Linked DNA regions of Homo sapiens. The protein of the gene in region 1 purifies or fractionates together with the protein of each later gene. This does not show direct contact. Each region holds a gene or a part of one and is shown in the gene's direction. Other genes may lie near its edges.

Region 1 (7,123 bases):
GAGATTGGCTATTATTAATTCCCTGTGAGCAATGCTGGCTCCTGCCTCTGTACGTGTCTGAAAACACCAACAGCAGCACTTTCCCAGACAGGTGTGTCTCTGCACCCCCGACGTGGCTCTCCCTGGCGACTCTGCGGAGCGCCACACTTTGCTTTTGGCGGGACCCGCACGGCTTCATCACCGAGTGTCCCTGAAGGGCTAGGGCCATGGGATCACTGGTGACGGTGCCGTGAAGGTCTGGAGAGTGGATTGTGAGGGATCCGGAGTCCCTGGGGATGTGCGTGGGTGAGGAGTGGTGCCATGGTGGCAGTGCACTTGTGTGGCTGTTTTTCCAAGTGGTAGTGACTGCAGGGAGGATGGCTTCAGGCCTGGGAACAGGCTGCCCCTGCACACTCACCCTCACCATCTGGTCTGCGAGACTAGCTTTAATTTCTACAGCGCTCCCTGAGGCTGGCGGAAAATGGTTCTGAAGACAAGAGTCACTGTTAACTGGAATGTTGTTGTGAATGGAGCACAGGCTTCCATGAAGTAGTGCTGAGGAAGGGTGCGCTGGGGCTAACTCCAGAGGCAGCATTGTAGCGAACACTCGTGACAGACCAGCCAGTGCGTGGAGGAGGCCGTGGCCCTGGCCTGCACGGGGGGCTCTTGCCCACATCTGCAGGAGGCAGCAGGCACGGCTCTGAGTGGCCCGTCTAGGGCAGGTCCCAGCTTACAGGAGGCACTCGCCAGTCCCATCCCCATGCCACGGCCCTTCTGAGTGTGCCAACATGGTACATGTTTCCTGGAAGGGAGCCAGGAGGACCACAGTCGTAAGACCTGCTGGCTCTGTCCAGGGCTGAGCTCCAGGCCAGGGCCCAGGCCTTCACCTGCACTGGCCTCTGGCTTCCAGCAGCAAACTCCATCTGCCCTCAGCATGGCCTTGCTCACGGGAACTGGGCTCAGCCCCACTACATGGCTTGACGCCTTCCGACTGGAACCAGCCACAGTGCCCCAGAGGCTCATATGCCTGCAGCTGGCCTTCCCCCAGAGGCAGGGGTGGGGCTGCCCCTTCCCTGCCCCTTCCCTGCCCCTCCTGGCCACCCAGGAGCCAGCGCTCACCTGTCCTCTGTGGGTCCAGAGAGCTGGATGTGGCAGTGGGATGCCCAGTTCTTGGTCAGTGGGAGCAGTTTCTTGTAGAAGATCCTGGAAAATTCTTCATGGCTTCAAGCACAGTCTGGACGCTACCGCATCAACACAGAGATGCAGGGTGGGGGCAAGATACACATTTGCAGGAGAGACTCGGGCCAGTGCACGTGCGCCCAGAGACAAGGCAGTGTGGACCATACTCTGCTTGGTGCTCGGCCACGTGCCACACAGAAGGAGAGGTTGTGGGTGCCCAGTCCACCCAGCTCTGCATTTGGGGGTGCAAGCCACTCCAAGATGTCCAGGAGAATGGCAGCTTCCAAAGGGAGCAGGGGTGCCTGGGGATGCCTCCAGCACAGACTCTGAGGGCCAACCTTCTGTCTTCTGTGACTCATGTTCCGGGACCCTGTGTCCTCATGGAGCTGAGGCCCATGTGGGGCTTTGTGTCAGAGCCGGCGGCAGCTGCAGTGTGTCATGGCTGCCCTTTGCTTTCTTTTTGGTGCCCTCTGTGTGCCTGGCCCTTGGATACAGGCAGCCGTGTTCCTACCCTGGGATGTGGCCCAGCCATGTGGCGAGGCCAGCACAGACATGCACAGAGGCTCAGGCACAGAGGGAACCGAAGGGAGTTGCCAGGCCACCTGGTCATCCCCCCTTGTGGGAGGCGTCGAGGTCACCTCTGGGCATGACACCTGATGCCCAGCACCTGAGAGCCATAGGACGGGTTGGATACCATGTATGTAGTTTCTGTGCCAGCCTGGGCCTTGGGCCCACTGAGGGCTGTGTGTGCGCCCAAGCTCTCCACCAAGCCGCAGGCATCCCCTGTCCTGCAGCAGGGGCTCTGGGGTGCTGACTGGGAGAGCGTGCTGACTGGGAGAGGCTGCTGCCGGTGCCTGGCCATGAGGTTGGGCCAGTGGATCTGTGTTGCCCATGGTGGAGGCCGGAGGCTGGCCAGTGGCGTGGTCCTGCCCGCTCGGGTCACTGTACCTGGACAGTGCAGATGTGCATTCTCAGTGTCGGCCCCTGTGTCTGTGAAGTGCATCCTGAGAAGCCCTGCACATGGACCAGGCAGGTGTCTGGATGGAGGCCCTGGAGCACAGAGCGTCCCTGCCACAGGGCCTTGGGCTAGAGTTGGGGGTTTCACAGACGAGGCCATCTGGGGCAGCTGTCACCCCTGGACTTCCAAAACAGCTTCCTGAAGCTAAAACTGCCCATTTTGCTGCTGAATGAGCTGAAGTTTTAGATTTCTGCAGGTGAAAGAAGACAGGTGGCTGCACCCTGTTCTCCTCAGTGGGCTGAACCACCATGGGAAGCCTGGTGCTGCTCCGTCCTCCTTCCTTCCTACTTGTGGCTGAGTAATTTGAATTCCTTTGAGGTTTTCATCTTGTTTTGGCTAAAGAGCTTACATCTTTCCTTTTCTTAAAAAACCCAGGCTGGTTTGCAATCCTCGGAAACCAATCATCAGCCCTGCAGCTTTGGGCCGCCGTATGCCTGCATTAGGGTGTTGGGGGTCCATCAGACGCACACGCGACTCCTGGGAGCCGCGGGAACTGTGGCTGGTGCCGGCCAAGGCAGTTGTGCCAGAAAGGGCAGGGCCGTCTCGAGTACCCATCCACGAGTGCCCTTCGGTGCCCTGGGCCCCTGCTGTGCATGCCTCCCGTGTGAGCAGCAAGGTGATGGTGAGATTGGAAATGCAGTTTCATCTGCCTTGTAGGAGTGGCTGGCTCTCCTTTGCCCCTGGGTGGGCACCGCTTGTTCAGAGCTGGCAGTAAGTCCATGGCCACCCCAGGTCCAGGCCCCGACTGGGGGAAACACACACCTTGCCACTGTCCTGTCTAGGCTAGGGTTGGGGGTTCGGCTCTTTCTATTTCTCAGGAAGCCAGGAGTCTGGGCCAAGGGCTCCTGTCCTCCACCCCCGCTTTGCGGCCAAGGGATACCCACTTGGTCAGCCCCGACAGAGGCTGTGAATGAAGTCCTAGTCAAAGACCATAGTTGGGAGCCACCATATGGCCGTGTTACGTGTGGCCCCCTCGCCAGCACCAGGTTTCTGTCATCCCATCGTTAGCAGAGGCGGCTTGCATGGTGGCTTGACAGCCTCTGGACCCGGCTTCGGACCCGGTGCTGCCACTCACAGCCTGGCCACATCCCTCGTGCCTGGGCCACCTGCTTCCCCTTGTGGTCCTGTGAGGAAAGACAAAAGGGACAGCTCCACGCTCCATAAGGCCAGGCAGCGAGGGCCACCTGGAGAGCAGCCAGGTGTGGCCGGGCCCCTTCCTGGCCTTTTGCCCCAAGTGCCGGGGTGCTGCAAGCCAGAGGGGTGCGTGAGTCCGTGAGCTTGTGCCAAGATGCTGTGGGCCTGATTCGTACTGCACAGTCATCTGAGCTGTCAGCAAGCTCTCACTGGTTGGCAGTGCCCACAGCCTCCCTGGCGTGGCCAGGTGTGGTGGGAGCAGAGGCCAGTGGGTGGGAGTGGGGTCCACCGTCCTTCCTGTAGAGAGGAAGCCTCTGGCCTCCTGGCTGCTGTTCTTGAGTTGGCAAAGCCACACTTTACGGAAGCGGTAGTTCTTGAAGCCAGACACACCTGAATTTGGAGTTGCCCAGCCTACCCCAGAATTTGTAGACAGCTACCTGCCAGATCACTGGGTCCCTGGAGCTCTGAAGGCTGAGCCCTATGTCCTTCCTGCAGGGCTCTCAGACAGATGCCTGCATCAGAAACTCCCTGGGTTATGACGAAAGGCCTATGACACCCCTAGGGAGTTGGGGAAGCCTCAGGAGCATCAGGAAGCAGGAGGAAGCAGGAGCCACTGCTGGGGTGAGGTCAGCATTTAGAGGCGGTCCTGCCCGCACATGCTGCCGCCAGCATTTCAGGGTGGGCTGCTCCCAGCAGGACTGCAGATCGGCCTGTCCATGTGTGGAACCCGAGGGGGCCTGTGCTGCGTCCTGGGGCATTCATGCTGGAGGGTTCCTGTGGCTCCGTCCTCTCACAGGTCTTACCAGCCGTGGCCCCTCTCCTGTTGGACTTGCCTTCCTGAACATGGGGAGGGGTCCCGAGCCCAGGACCCCTAATCAGTTCCAAGGGCTCCAGAGCTTTCAGTCTCTGCCACCTTCTGAGCCGTCGTCTGTCACAGATCATGACCGTCAGCTGTCCCTGGAGGTGCGGAAGGAGCCCTTCCTGTGGGGCTGCTGGGTTAACGCCGGAACCATGGGGAGCAGAAGGCGCGGTGTGTGAGAGGGGTCTGCCCAGGTAGCAGGATCCCCCCCCACACCGGACACTTCCCCAGCGTGGGGCGGAGCTCGTGGTGCTGGCCTGGAGGGACACACGGTGCTGACCTGGCTGCCGCCTCTGGACTGCGAAGCCTGGACCTGCTGGGACAGGAGCCTTGCAGAGACCCCGATCCGCTCTCACGGCGAGCTGCACCCATGCTGGCTGATGGGAGCTTTAATCTGCTTTCATGTTGGCAAATACTTGGCAGGGCACCCTTTGGCAGCCTTTCACGCTGGCGTGAAACAAATTGGGTCTGTTCGATCCTGTCCTGCGCAGAGCTGGAATTCACTGGTGGTGATGGCCAGCCCTTGGCAGCTGGAGGGGGAGGGTTTGTTTTCCTTTTGTTCTGCAGAATTTTCCAAGGAAATCGTAAATAGTTTTGCGCACCAAAATCAGAGAAGCTAAAAAGCACGAAATATTGTAATACAAACATTCAAATTGGAGATTATTTTAATGGTAAGTGTCTTGGCGGATTTAGACTGAGAGCCTTGCCAGAGGCCGATGGAAACGGGGGTCCCTCCTTGCTGTCTCCAGTGAGGTTCTCCGTGAGGCACTCACGTCGGTAGCTGGCAGGACCCTCCAGGGCTCCCACCTGCCCTTAAGGCCGTGGTCCTGCGTGGATGTACTTCCAGGACGAGGCCTCTCACATCCGCTAAGGGGGACGTGACAAGAGCTACAGCAGCTGTTTTTGGATAACAGAGCCTACCCCATCCTCCTTTCCACAAAGGATAACAGAGCCGACCTCATCCTCGTTTCCCCAAAGGATAACAGAGCCGACCCCATCCTCCTTTCCACAAAGGATAACAGAGCTGACCTCACCCTCCTTCCCACAAAGGATAACAGAGCAGACCCCATCCTCCTTCCCACAAAGGATAACAGAGCCGACCCCATCCTCCTTCCCACAAAGGATAACAGAGCCAACCTCATCCTCGTCCTTCCCACAAAGGATAACAGAGCCGACCTCATCCTCGTTCCCACAAAGGATAGCAGAGCCGACCCTATCCTACTTCTCACCAGGACGTGCCTGGACATGGTGCAAAGCTGCTGCCCCTGGTGGCCTCCCTGCTGCCCCGGGGACGTGGGTAGCTTGGCTCTCTGTGGCTGGCGTCTGGGCCTCAGCGTCCTGGGGTCCTCAGAGGGACCCCATGTCCCTCTGCCCACCATCACCGCCTGCTCTCTTGGCTGCCCAGGTGCACCCAGCTCAACTGTCCCGAGGGCGTGCCAGGCCAGTGGCCAGGTCCGTGTGCCCTGCACCCTTCAGGGCAGCCACTCATGTCTGAGACCAGCCAGCCCCAGACAGAGCTGGAGCAGGGGCCATTTCAGTGGCCCTGATTTTGCTCCTGAGGGCTGTGGTGTAACACGAAAGAACGTTGCTGTAGGCTTCCAGCCGTGGGATTCCAGGGCTGTCTTTGCCTTGTGCTGCTGGACAGAGCAGGACCTGCACCTCTGTTTGTCACAGGCTTGTCCTGGGCACCGCCTCAAAAGGAGGAAACAAAAACAGAAGGGCTGAGTCCCGGAGCCAGGACCCCAAACCAGAAGTCCCTCCCAGAGCCCACAGCCCCCCACCACGGGGCCGCCCTGCAGCCCCAGGGCCTGAGCTGCTTTCTGGATGCTGGGAGAACCGGACAGTGGCTGCTGGAAGGCAGGCCTGGAGGGCTCTGGGTGCTGGGGTGCGGGTGAGGCCGGGCATGGGTGCAGGCCTGTGGTGCTGGGGTGTGAGAGATGCTGGGCTGGAGTGTGGGAGAGGCCAGGCAGGGGTACAGGGCCCGTGGTGCTGGGGTGTGAGAGAGGCCGAGCTGGGGTGCAGGGCCTGTGGTGCTGGGGTGTGGGACAGGCCAGGCAGGGGCGGGGGCTGCCACTTGATGTGGGTGTCAGGACAGTGTGTGGTGAGGAGGCATGGAGGAAGCGTGGCCCCCCAGAGGCTTCCAGGCTGGGCAGCCACTGCAAAGGCCCTGAGGCAGGAGTAGGCCTGGAGGACGGGACGGTAGCAGGCAGGGGCTGCGAGAGACACAGCGGAGGAAGAAGAATGGCGGCCCCCACCCATCTCCCTCTGCCAGAAGGAGCCACGGGCACAGCCTACAGATGTGCACTGGTCTCTGTGCTGTGGGAGGCCAGACCTGGTGTCTGTGAGGAGCACCACAGCTGCAGACCTGCCGGATGACCCTCGGGTGACACTTTGGGGTGGAAGACCCCACCCACCCTGCAAGCCATGTTCCTCGGGCTCCGAGCCCCATCCTCACATCTGTGGAGCAGGTGGGACCACTAGCAGGGGCTTCTGGCCCTTCCTCTCCTCCCATTGATTTGTTGAAAGCGATTTAGGTTTTCTGTAAAACAAAGCGGACATGGGCCTGGGGAAGGTGCTTGCGGGTATTTCATGAGCTTTTCTAGGCCTGAGACATGTTTTAGGTGGCAGCGGGCTCACGTGTGTTGGGGGGAGAGACTGGTCACAGTCAGGGCGACTCAGGGGCTTGTGCTCAGATGGTGACGCCCAGCCCCCTTGTCCCCAGGGTGACAGGGAGAGGTGGCAAGAACTGGCAGCTGCCCACAGGCTGAGCCGAGCCCAGCAGAAAGGCCCAAGGCCGGAGCACAGAGGTGGCCTGGATGCTTCTGGCCGGTGGTCAGGACCCTGCCAGGCCTTGCTTGGAGGCATCTTGTGTATGAGGGGAGCCCTGCCCATGCCAACCACCTAGCTGTGCCCAGGGGAAGCCGCCCCAGAGGCCCATTCTCGGGGTCTGTTTG
Region 2 (7,590 bases), on another chromosome or scaffold:
CACCTCAGCTCACTGCAACCTCCGCCTCCCCGGTTCAAGCGATTCTCCTGCCTCAGCCTCCCGAGTAGCTGGGATTACAGGTGTCTGCCACCATGCCTAGTTAATTTTTTTGTATTTTTAGTAGAGACGGGGTTTCATTATGTTGGCCAGGCTGGTCTTGAAATCCTGACCTCAGGTGATCCACCTGCCTTGGCCTCCTAAAGTGTTGGGATTACAGGCGTGAGCCACCGGACCCAGCCCATTTTTATCACTGCACCTTCTAGAAAGCCTAAGATTACATTTGTGCCTTACACTGTTTTTCTATCAGACAGGGCCCTATTGTCATTATCAATACATCGGACCTCCTCATCTCAGTTTCATCCATTTTACTCTCTAAGCACCACCTCCTATCTTTGCATCTCACTCCTTCTATTACCCAATTCCAATAATTCTTCAACCCCAACAGGACCCACAAGTCAATGATCCAACCACCTTTTCACTGTCTCTCACTCCCCATGACTTCACTTCCTCCATATCCAGTTTACACTCCATGGTCTACCATTCTAACCTCTCCCTTATACCCCTAGAATCCCTTGCATCCCTTTCTTCCCAGTCTTTCCCATTCATGAGCAGTAATAAGTATCTTTATAACTGCTAAGCCAAAAACGTGGGGTCCAGCTTGACTCTTTATTCTCCATATCCAACTTCTCAGTAAATCCCAAGGGCCTTCTAGGGACCACTGCTCATCATCAGTAATAATACTACCTGATCCAAACTGCTATCCTTCCCATGGATTATTATAATAGCTTCTTAACCAGTTTTCCTGATTCTGTTTTGGGCCCCCTACAGTTTCTTCTCAACACAGCAACCAAAGTGATCCTTTGAAGTTGAATCTCAACGCGAAATCTAGCTGTGGCTTCACGGTTCACTTAATAAAAGCCAAAGCCCTCCAACCAGGCATGGCGGCTCACGCCTGTAATCTCAGCACTTTGGGAGGGATCACTTGGGGTCAGGAGTTCCAGACCAGCCTGGCCAACACGGCGAAACCCCGTGTCTACTAAAAATACAAAAATCAGCCGGGCATGGTGGCATGGGCCTATAATCCCAGTTACTTGGGAGGCTGAGGCACGAGAATGGCTTGAATCTGGGAGGCGGAGATTGCGCCACTGCACTCCAGAATGAGCAACAAAGCGAGACTCTGTCTCAAAAAAAAAAAAAAAAAAAAAAAAAAAGCCTGGCGCGGTGGCTCACGCCTGTAACCCCAGCATTTTGGGAGGCCGAGGCGGGTGATTCACAAGGTCAGATGTTCGAGGCCAGCCTGGCCAACATGGTGAAACCTCGTCTCTACTAAAAATACAAAAAAATTAGCTGAGCGTGGCGGCGGGTGCCTGTAATCCCAGTTACTCGGGAGGCCAAGGCAGGAGAATCGCCTGAACCCGGGAGGTGGAGGTTGCAGTGAGCCGAGATCGCGCCACTGCACTAAAGTCTGGGCGACAGAGTGAGATTCTGTAACGAAAAAAAAAAAAAAAAGCTAAACCCCTCAGAATGGCCTGCATGGCACTACATTATCTGTCCTTTATCACCACTTTGACAGCACTCTCCTTTGCTTATTTTGCTCCTCATTCTGGTCTCTGGATCTGTGCACTTGCTGTTCCTTACGCTCTTCTCCCAGGGATCTGAAAGGCTCACACCCTCACCTCCTTCAGATGTTTGCTAAAATGTCTTCTACCCAGTGAAGCCTTCCCCAACCACTACATTAAAAACACACAACCAGCCCTCTCCCTCTCCCTCCTCTCCCTCTCCCCACGGTCCCCCTCTCCCCACGGTCTCCCTCTGATGCCGAGCCGAAGCTGGACTGTACTGCTGCCATCTCGGCTCACTGCAACCTCCCTGCCTGATTCTCCTGCCTCAGCCTGCCGAGTGCCTGCGATTACAGGCGCATGCCGCCACGCCTGACTGGTTTTCGTACTTTTTTGGTGGAGACGGGGTTTCGCTGTGTTGGCCGGGCTGGTCTGCAGCTCCTAACCGCGAGTGATCTGCCAGCCTCGGCCTCCCGAGGTGCCGGGTTTGCAGACGGAGTCTGGTTCACTCAGTGCTCAATGGTGCACAGGCTGGAGTGCAGTGGCGTGATCGAGGCTCGCTACAACCTCCACCTCCCAGCCGCCTGCCTTGGCCTCCCAAAGTGCCGAGATTGCAGCCTCTGCCTGGCCCCCCATCGTCTGGGACGTGAGGAGCCCCTCTGCCTGGCTGCCCAGTCTGGAAAGTGAGGAGCGTCTCTGCCCGGCCGCCATCCCATCTAGGAAGTGAGGAGCACCTCTTCCCGGCCGCCATCCCATCTAGGAAGTGAGGGGAGTCTCTGCCCGGCCGCCCATCGTCTGAGATGTGGGGAGCACCTCTGCCCCGCCGCCCCGTCTGGGATGTGAGGAGCGCCTCTGCCCGGCCGCCCCATCTGAGAAGTGAGGAGACCCTCCGCCCGGCAGCCACCCCATCCGGGAGGGAGGTGGGGGTCAGCCCCCGCCAGGCCAGCCACCCCATCCGGGAGGGAGGTGGGGGTCAGCCCCCCGCCCGGCCAGCCACCCCGTCTGGGAGGGAGGTGGGGGGGCCAGCCCCCGTCCGGGAGGAAGGTGGGGTGTCAGCCCCCCGCCCGGCCAGCCGCCCCGTCCGGGAGGGAGGTGGGGGGTCAGCCCCCCGCCCGGCCAGCCGCCCCGTCCGGGAGGGAGGTGGGGGGGTCAGCCCCCCGCCCGGCCAGCCGCCCCGTCCGGGAGGTGAGGGGCGCCTCTGCCCGGCCGCCCCTACTGGGATGTGAGGAGCCCCTCTGCCCGGCCACCACCCCGTCTGGGAGGTGTACTCAACAGCTCATTGAGAACGGGACGGGATGACAATGGCGGTTTTGTGTAATAGAAAGGGGGGAAAGGGGGGGAAAAGATTGAGAAATCGGATGGTTGCCGTGTCTGTGTAGAAAGAAGTAGACATGGGAGACTTTTCATTTTGTTCCATACTAAGAAAAATTCTTCTGCCTTGGGATCCTGCTAATCGGTGACCTTACCCCCAACCCTGTGCTCTCTGAAACATGTGCTGTGTCCACTCAGAGTTGAATGGATTAAGGGCGGTGCAAGATGTGCTTTGTTAAACAGATGCTTGAAGGCAGCGTGCTGGTTAAGAGTCATCACCACTCCCTAATCTCAAGTACCCAGGGACACAAACACTGCGGAAGGCCGCAGGGTCCTCTGCCTAGGAAAACCAGAGACCTTTGTGCACTTGTTTATCTGCTGACCTTCCCTCCACTATTGTCCTATGACCCTGCCAAATCCCCCTCTGCGAGAAACACCCAAGAATGATCAATAAAAAAAAAAAAAAAAAAAAACACAACCAGCATCCATTCTCTTATCTTCCTCCACTTTGCATTTCTCCATTGTTTAACATCACTTGCACACCTTTAATTTTTAGTTTATTAATTCATACTGCAAACGAACTCAGTTCTTATCATGTGCCAGGTATTGTCCTAGTTGCTGACAATACAGCTGAAAATAAAATAGACAAAAATCCTATCTTTTGAATCTTTTGAACCTTGCATTGGGAGTGACAGACAAAACGAGGTAAATCAGTAAAATACGTGAGACACAAAGCTAAAGGAAAAAAATAAGAGGAAAGGGCAGATTTTTGTGTCTTCCTTCCAGAATGGAAGCTCCCTGAGGATACGGATTTGTGTTTTTTCCTATTATATCTCCTGACAATAGCGCCCAGCACATAGTAGGCATTCGATCGAATTTTTAAAATGAAATACAAGGCAGTTACTCAGTTCCCGGGCACATTTCAACTTTTAGAGAACAATTACACCAATTAAGAAAATCGATTACAGCTAGGCTACGATTCGAGAGCTAAGTGGCGCTCATCTTTGGGAGTATGCCGTTCAATTCCTCAAACTCAAAATTATTTTATCGATTTCTACAGTTACCGCGGTGCACTGGCTCAAAAAAAGGGTTCATTAATTGAGTGCTTTTTACTCCCAGCTAAGCTGACCAAAGATCACGGTAAGAGGCAAAGGGTCACAGCCGCACTGGCGTAACCCGTAACTGTACACGTTCCGGGCGGCCAGGAGCCAGGGCGCAGACCTCCAAGCCGGACCACTCGAGCTGCTAAAGAAAAGGCAATACACTAACCTCTCCGCCGGAAGAGAAGAAGGAAGCGCCAGGGACGCACGCTTCCTCGGCAGGACTGCAGGGAAAGAGCCGCACCCCCAGCCTCTCACTACTGCAGCCAACCCATCTCCTGGAAGGGCGCTCCCGCCCACCCCCGCTACTGCGCAGCCGCACTGAACTCTGGTCCCACTTAGCGGGAGAAACTCGGGCCACGTGACTGTCTGACCACGTGAGCCGCGTCGCCGCGACCTCTTCCGCTCCCTAGGCCCTGGGACCTCCCGGTCCCTTGCCTGCTTCCGGCTTTCGCTCGCTTCCATATCCGCTCCTCTAGTCGCCCTCCGCTGGCCCCGCCTTCGTCCCCGGAAGATTGGGTCTTCTGGCGAGCCACTGTTTGCCGTTTGATCGGGCACCAAATAAAGTTTCTTTATTCAAAAGCACTTTTTTTTTAAAGCCACACCACCCCCATTCTCAGCTCCTCCTTCGCGGCGGTACCGCCTCTGTTTCTGCGGCGATTGAACAGCCGAGCTTTGCGGCCGGGATCGCGGAAAGTGATGGCTGTCGTCCCGGCGTCTCTCTCAGGACAGGACGTGGGGTTAGTCTAGCTTTTCTCCTCCCCACTTTTGCGGAAAGCCGGGCCTCGCCGGGAGCCTGTGGGGACTAAGCGGAGGGCGCCCGCTCCCCGGTGGGCTGCGTTCGAGTCCCGCCGCCGGGCGCGGCTTTCCGGGGCGCCTTTGCGGGTTTCGCGGACTGGCTCGGAGGCGAAGGGAGGCGGCCCCGGGGAGGGAGCCTGCCCGCGGCGGCTGCTCGTAAGGATCAGGACAGGGGTCAGCTTCGCGGTCTGTTCCTGGCGGTCACTTTTTATTTATTCACTTTAATAGACGCGCTTTGGGGGCGTTAAAATTCTGCGTAAGAGTTGGGGATCTCAGCGCTATTAAGAAACGGGTTTCTCCCTGTTGTTGATCAAATCGTAATCTCACAGTAAGAACTGTCTAGTTTTTTGCTTTATAGTCGTCACGCTACTGATTCTTGGGTAAAGTTGTGGGTGACCGTGCAAATAACATCCATTTGCATAAATCGAATGGCCAAATTTATATTTGAAATTTGTCCTTACTTCAAAATATTGCAAAAGACGAGAACACTTTGAAGAAAATAAACCTGGGCAGAAAGTAGGTTGAGGCCAACAAAGTGGCGCCAATGGCCCCAAATTGAGGCAGTCACTGTTTCAGGTCATGCAAGTATAGAGAGTATCTCCTTCAATTTTGCGCCCTAGGGCTTCTGGCCTCACTCCAGTCCTGGCCAGAGACTTTGTTCCAGAGGTGCAGGAAATGTAGTAGTTAGGAAAACAGTAATACTTTCCAATTAAAGTAAAATCTCAAAAAAGGACTTACTATACCTACTGCCTGGGAAAATTCAAGTGACAGTTGATTTAATGTTCCTGCTCACCCTCTGAGGTATTAGTGATTTCTTTTATTAATGATTTTTAAAAATTAAATTCTGATCAACGTAGTTATTATGCGCATTAAAACCTAATCACTGTTTTGGGTGGTACTGAAAGCACCACAGAGTCGGAAAGTGTGTGCAGTTTTTTTCTTAAAGTTCTATAGCTATCATTTGAGGAAACCTTTTGAAGAAATACCCAAGTTACAATCTAGTAATTTAACAATTGTCTCCTGTGATCTGGAGATAAAAACACTAGTCAGCTAAGCTCTGTGCTCTATATTTAAAACTGCACAGAATTTCTCCACCAAATAAAGCTTTTTTTCTACCTGTATCATGTATTTCCTTAGAATGATATAAAATGATAATCTGTAAATCTTGGGTTTTGTATGAATAAAATCAAGAATATCTTTAATTTTTTAATGCAGGTATAAGTTTTTCTTCATCTCCAGCTTGCTTCATTCTTGAACACTTCTATAAAATCTCTGATTTTTTGAGTGGGAAGAGACAGTAGCACGCCTTCATTTGCTTAGGGGCAGAATAGGATGGAAGGAGTCCATTGTGCAGATAGAGAAGGCAGAGAAGGGGAAAATTTTTGAAAATAATTAAAATTGACTTAGAAAATAGACAGAATGGAGAGAAACAGGCTTAAAAGTACCTTTAATTCTTTATGTTGTTCAAGCACATTAGACCCTTTAGGTGGTTTTAGATGCATTGCTTCATTCATCTTTCTAAGCAGGTGACTTAGCAGATAGTAGACCTGGGACAAGAGCCTGTTTGATTTCTAAGCTAATCCATTCCCTATCCTATCACTTTGCTAAGCGAGTTTCTGATTTAGGAAAATAAAAGCAATAGAATAGGAAAGATAAGAATGATTAAACAGACTCCATGGGAGAATCTGGGATTAGAGGCACCAAGACAGTTTGGCTTCCATGACATACCAGCGAATTTTCCAGGTTTTCTTATGTCTTAATATAGTAATCATACAATACTTGTCTATCTTTTAATAGTTGTATGAGGAGTTTAATATACATGAAGTGTTCCAGAAACTAAAAGATAGCCAGTCTTCTAGTATTGATGCTGCTAAGTTATATATTGCATGTGACTCTTTTCTAGATCATTTGCATATCTTACAATTAAAGACAGAATACCACAGATCTTAACTAAGGTTATTGATACATTGCATCGACATAAAAGTGAATTTTTTGAGAAACACGGAGAGGTAAGAATTGTTTTAACTTTTAATTTTTTGTTAATTTCTCAACAGAAACATAATAAATAGTTCTTGAAGGTATCAATTTTCCTTTAAATGTAAAAATCAATAGATGGGCCAAGTATTTATTTGTTTTTAAGGTAATACATTGAAATGAAGATAGAACAGCCAATCTTCAATTTAGAAAATGATTGTGTTCCAATAATTAATTCTGTCAGTTATTTAGACTTCAGAATGTATTTTCTAATATATGCAATGTTGTAATTGGTGACTGGGCAACAGACTTGCAATTGACTTAGTCAAGTGACTAAGCAATTGAGTTGCTTAGAAGAGCTTTTTAAATTTCAAGTTTAATTTGAGTTGCAGTATTTATATTACTAATTTGAGATCTTGAGTCCTGGAAGTTCAAGCTGCTATGCAAAGCTCAGTGATATGAATTATAATTGATTGACACATTGTACTGATTCAAGTTGGGACTCATTAGCATTCAGTGCAGAATAGGACTTTAGAAATCACTTTGTCCATTCAATTAATGGATGAGGAAAAATCCAAATAACTATGTTATTGAAGGGGTGGGTTGCCCCTCCACACCTGTGGGTGTTTCTCGTAAGGTGGAACGAGAGACTTGGAAAAGAAAAAGACACAGAGACAAAGTATAGAGAAAGAAATAAGGGGACCTGGGGAACCAGCGTTCAGCATATGGAGGATCCCGCCAGCCTCTGAGTTCCCTTAGTATTTATTGATCATTCGTGGGTGTTTCTCCGAGAGAGGGATGTGTCAGGGTCACAAGACAATTGTGGGGAGAGGGTCAGCAGACAAACA
Region 3 (2,895 bases), on another chromosome or scaffold:
CAACTCTATATTATATATAAAGATTCAAGGAAAAGTATATTTTAAAGGGTTTATTTATGTGTGCTGGTTGCAGAAAAGCTGAACGTTAGGTTAAGTACAAAGAATTTGTAGATTGCCTTCAGTTATATGATCAGAAGAGTCTGAAAATAATGAAAATTAAAGGTCAGATGTTTATGAATGTTCATCTATGCTTTATTTTCTAGGATAAATCTATAAGCACAAGTTTACCTGTCCTAGATTTAATAGATGCCATTGCACCAAATGCAGTTCGTCAAGAAATGATCAGGAGAGAAAACTTATCTGATGAGGACAAGCTGAACAATGCTAAGTAAGCCTTTATGGTTTATATTACAATACATGGCCCTTTAATTCTCTAAAATCCTTATAGGAAAAGTTACTATGCCCTTAAAATTCATATTTTTAAATATAACTTATATGTGAGTCTTAGATTTAAGACTCACAAACTTAACCTTTTCGTAAAACTAATCTTGTCAAAATATTTCACTCTTTTGTTAAAATATGTTAAGTGAAAACACAGTGGATAACACCAAGATATTTTTCTTGTCTCTTCAAGATACGCCATTTCAGTTGCTCGAAAGATCGGTGCCCGGATATATGCATTACCTGATGACCTCGTAGAAGTGAAACCAAAGATGGTTATGACGGTGTTTGCATGCTTAATGGGAAAAGGACTGAACAGAATAAAATAATCATTTCATATGATTTTCTGCCACATTAAACATATTGTATGCCTCACAGTTTACAGGATTCTGAAATGTAGTGGGTGTAAAACCAGAGATTATTTGTATGCTCAAAATAGTTATATATTCATTAATGAATTCAATATCCTGTTCATACTAGTTAGAGCTGGTCAGCCTTTTTGGGTAACACAGTTAATTTACCAACTGATACAGATAATAGAATATATTCATAATCAAGCTGATACTTCATGATTAAATTATTTTTGTTGCTTAAAAGTCGTATTAGACAAGACTAAATCATTCTTTTTTATGGTTCAAAAAAGATGAATACAAACGTTTTTGCAGGTTCTGCTGTGAAATGTGGTTTGATTTTTTTGGTGTGTTAATTTTGATCATAAATGCATTCATACTCATAATCCAGTTTAATCCTTTTATTTGCTTCCTCCAACTATTTAAAGTGGTCCAAAAACACTTTTCTGTAAGTTTCTATACTGTCTAAAACCTTATGGTGACCAGAATTGTTTATTAATATCAAACTTTTTTATATATGAGAACTAATTCTTGAATAAACCCCAAAGTTCACTCTCTTGTTTAAGTAGCAGCAGCTTTTTACTTAAAATTTAATTTTAACTACATTGATACTTTACACATCCTAGTTTGGTAACACAGCTTTAACTATGTCATGCAACATATATATGTTGGTAGGATGTTATTAGAGAGATATGTGTGCATATATATTTTTTTGCACCTGAATCACCCAGCTTTTCATAAGTGGTATGTTTAATTGGTCATTCAGCCAACCATCAGTATTTTCCCCCCACAACATGTGTAACACTTTTCAGTCTGTGGATATCTGATACATTAAGATTTCTTTTTATAAGTATTCATTTTGAATGTGCATATAGTTATTTGACCCCTTCCAAATACTTGTAGCCAAACATTGGCTAGAACATCCCAAGATATGCTGACACTGTCCTGTTAGCTTCATATTATACTTGCTAGTTTAGGTCTCTATAGAAGCCCTATATAATTTAGAATATGCCCACTGAATATCTTTAATAGAAAGTAACATAAAGCTAGTATTCAATGTAGAGTATTTTCATATGTTTTTCACAGCCCGTTACAAATTGGCAATGTTTGGTTAATGTTTGTATTACTTGGAAATCGCTACAGCTTGGACTATTTTTTTCTAAATTTTTAGCATTAGTCCATTTCTGCTGCTAACAATTGAATCCAGAAATCTACTTTCTCCATCTTCCACTGTTAGTGCCAGTGAGCAATACTGTTGTGCAACAAAAATGTCACTTTATCTCAGTGTGAATGAGTAGTCTAAATTCCCTTTCTACCATTGATTTAAATATATATATTGGTAAGAGAGACTGCCCATGTGTTTAGAATAGAATTTTTTAAATGAAATGATCAACAGGTGGAATTTGAAATATATTCTTCTACAAAAGAGATTTCTTTCCCTTTTATATTTTGATGATTGTTTTCTTAAGATTAAGATATGTTCTTGCTCTTTTATAAGATTATTTAAATTATGTTTCCCTCTGATTTTTTTTCACCATTGTATTTACTAAGTTATTGGATTTACATGAAATCTGGCACTTTAGGGTGTTCTTTTTCTCACAGAGTATATTTAATAAAAATGCTGTGTATATAGAAATGTGTTTATATTTATTTCATTTGAAGAAAAATATTCAGCCTTGAAAATTAGTCTAGCATAAGCTTATTTTCCAGAAAAGAAAAGAATTCCTAAATGAGTTAGTAAAACAAAAAAAAAATTGTGTCTGATTTCTTTGAAGATGAGGGTAGTTCTTTTGTTCTTAAATATGAAGAATTATTAAAAACCAACTGTGTGATTACTACAATTTAGTTTGTGCTGAAATAATTCAGGTGAATCAATCCATTCACAAATTTATCATTTATTATGATCCAGATACTATGCTAGACACTGGGGATTCATCTGAAAAAAATACAGATGAAGTCTCCTGACCTCATGTATCACATCCATGTATGATATCCTAGTAGAGAGACAATTCGTAAATAGGAATTTTAGACAGTGATAATGCAGTAGAAGAAATAACATAAGGTAATGTGATAGAGACTGACTTGGGAAATGGAGTGGAGATTATTTGTATTTGGGTGGTCAGGGAAGGTCTCTCTAAGGATATTTGTGCTATAAGTGTTCAGC

The links.
Region 2: the proteins of NKD2 (region 1) and DCPH1 purify together in Homo sapiens (affinity purification with mass spectrometry; 3 studies listed by BioGRID and IntAct, with this or other methods). This does not show direct contact.
Region 3: the proteins of NKD2 (region 1) and PLS1 purify together in Homo sapiens (affinity purification with mass spectrometry; 3 studies listed by BioGRID and IntAct, with this or other methods). This does not show direct contact.

Annotation. Positions count from the first base shown.
Region 1 is NC_000005.10:1,011,725-1,018,847, forward strand, and holds part of NKD2 (protein naked cuticle homolog 2), read left to right. Parts: intron 1-7,123. UniProt on the Homo sapiens protein: Cell autonomous antagonist of the canonical Wnt signaling pathway. May activate a second Wnt signaling pathway that controls planar cell polarity.
Region 2 is NC_000006.12:151,447,877-151,455,466, forward strand, and holds the start of DCPH1 (damage-control phosphatase ARMT1), read left to right. Parts: upstream 1-4,589; 5' UTR 4,590-4,669; coding exon 4,670-4,710; intron 4,711-6,671; coding exon 6,672-6,777; intron 6,778-7,590. UniProt on the Homo sapiens protein: Metal-dependent phosphatase that shows phosphatase activity against several substrates, including fructose-1-phosphate and fructose-6-phosphate.
Region 3 is NC_000003.12:142,711,298-142,714,192, forward strand, and holds the end of PLS1 (plastin-1), read left to right. Parts: intron 1-203; coding exon 204-328; intron 329-574; coding exon 575-710; 3' UTR 711-2,367; downstream 2,368-2,895. UniProt on the Homo sapiens protein: Actin-bundling protein. In the inner ear, it is required for stereocilia formation. Mediates liquid packing of actin filaments that is necessary for stereocilia to grow to their proper dimensions.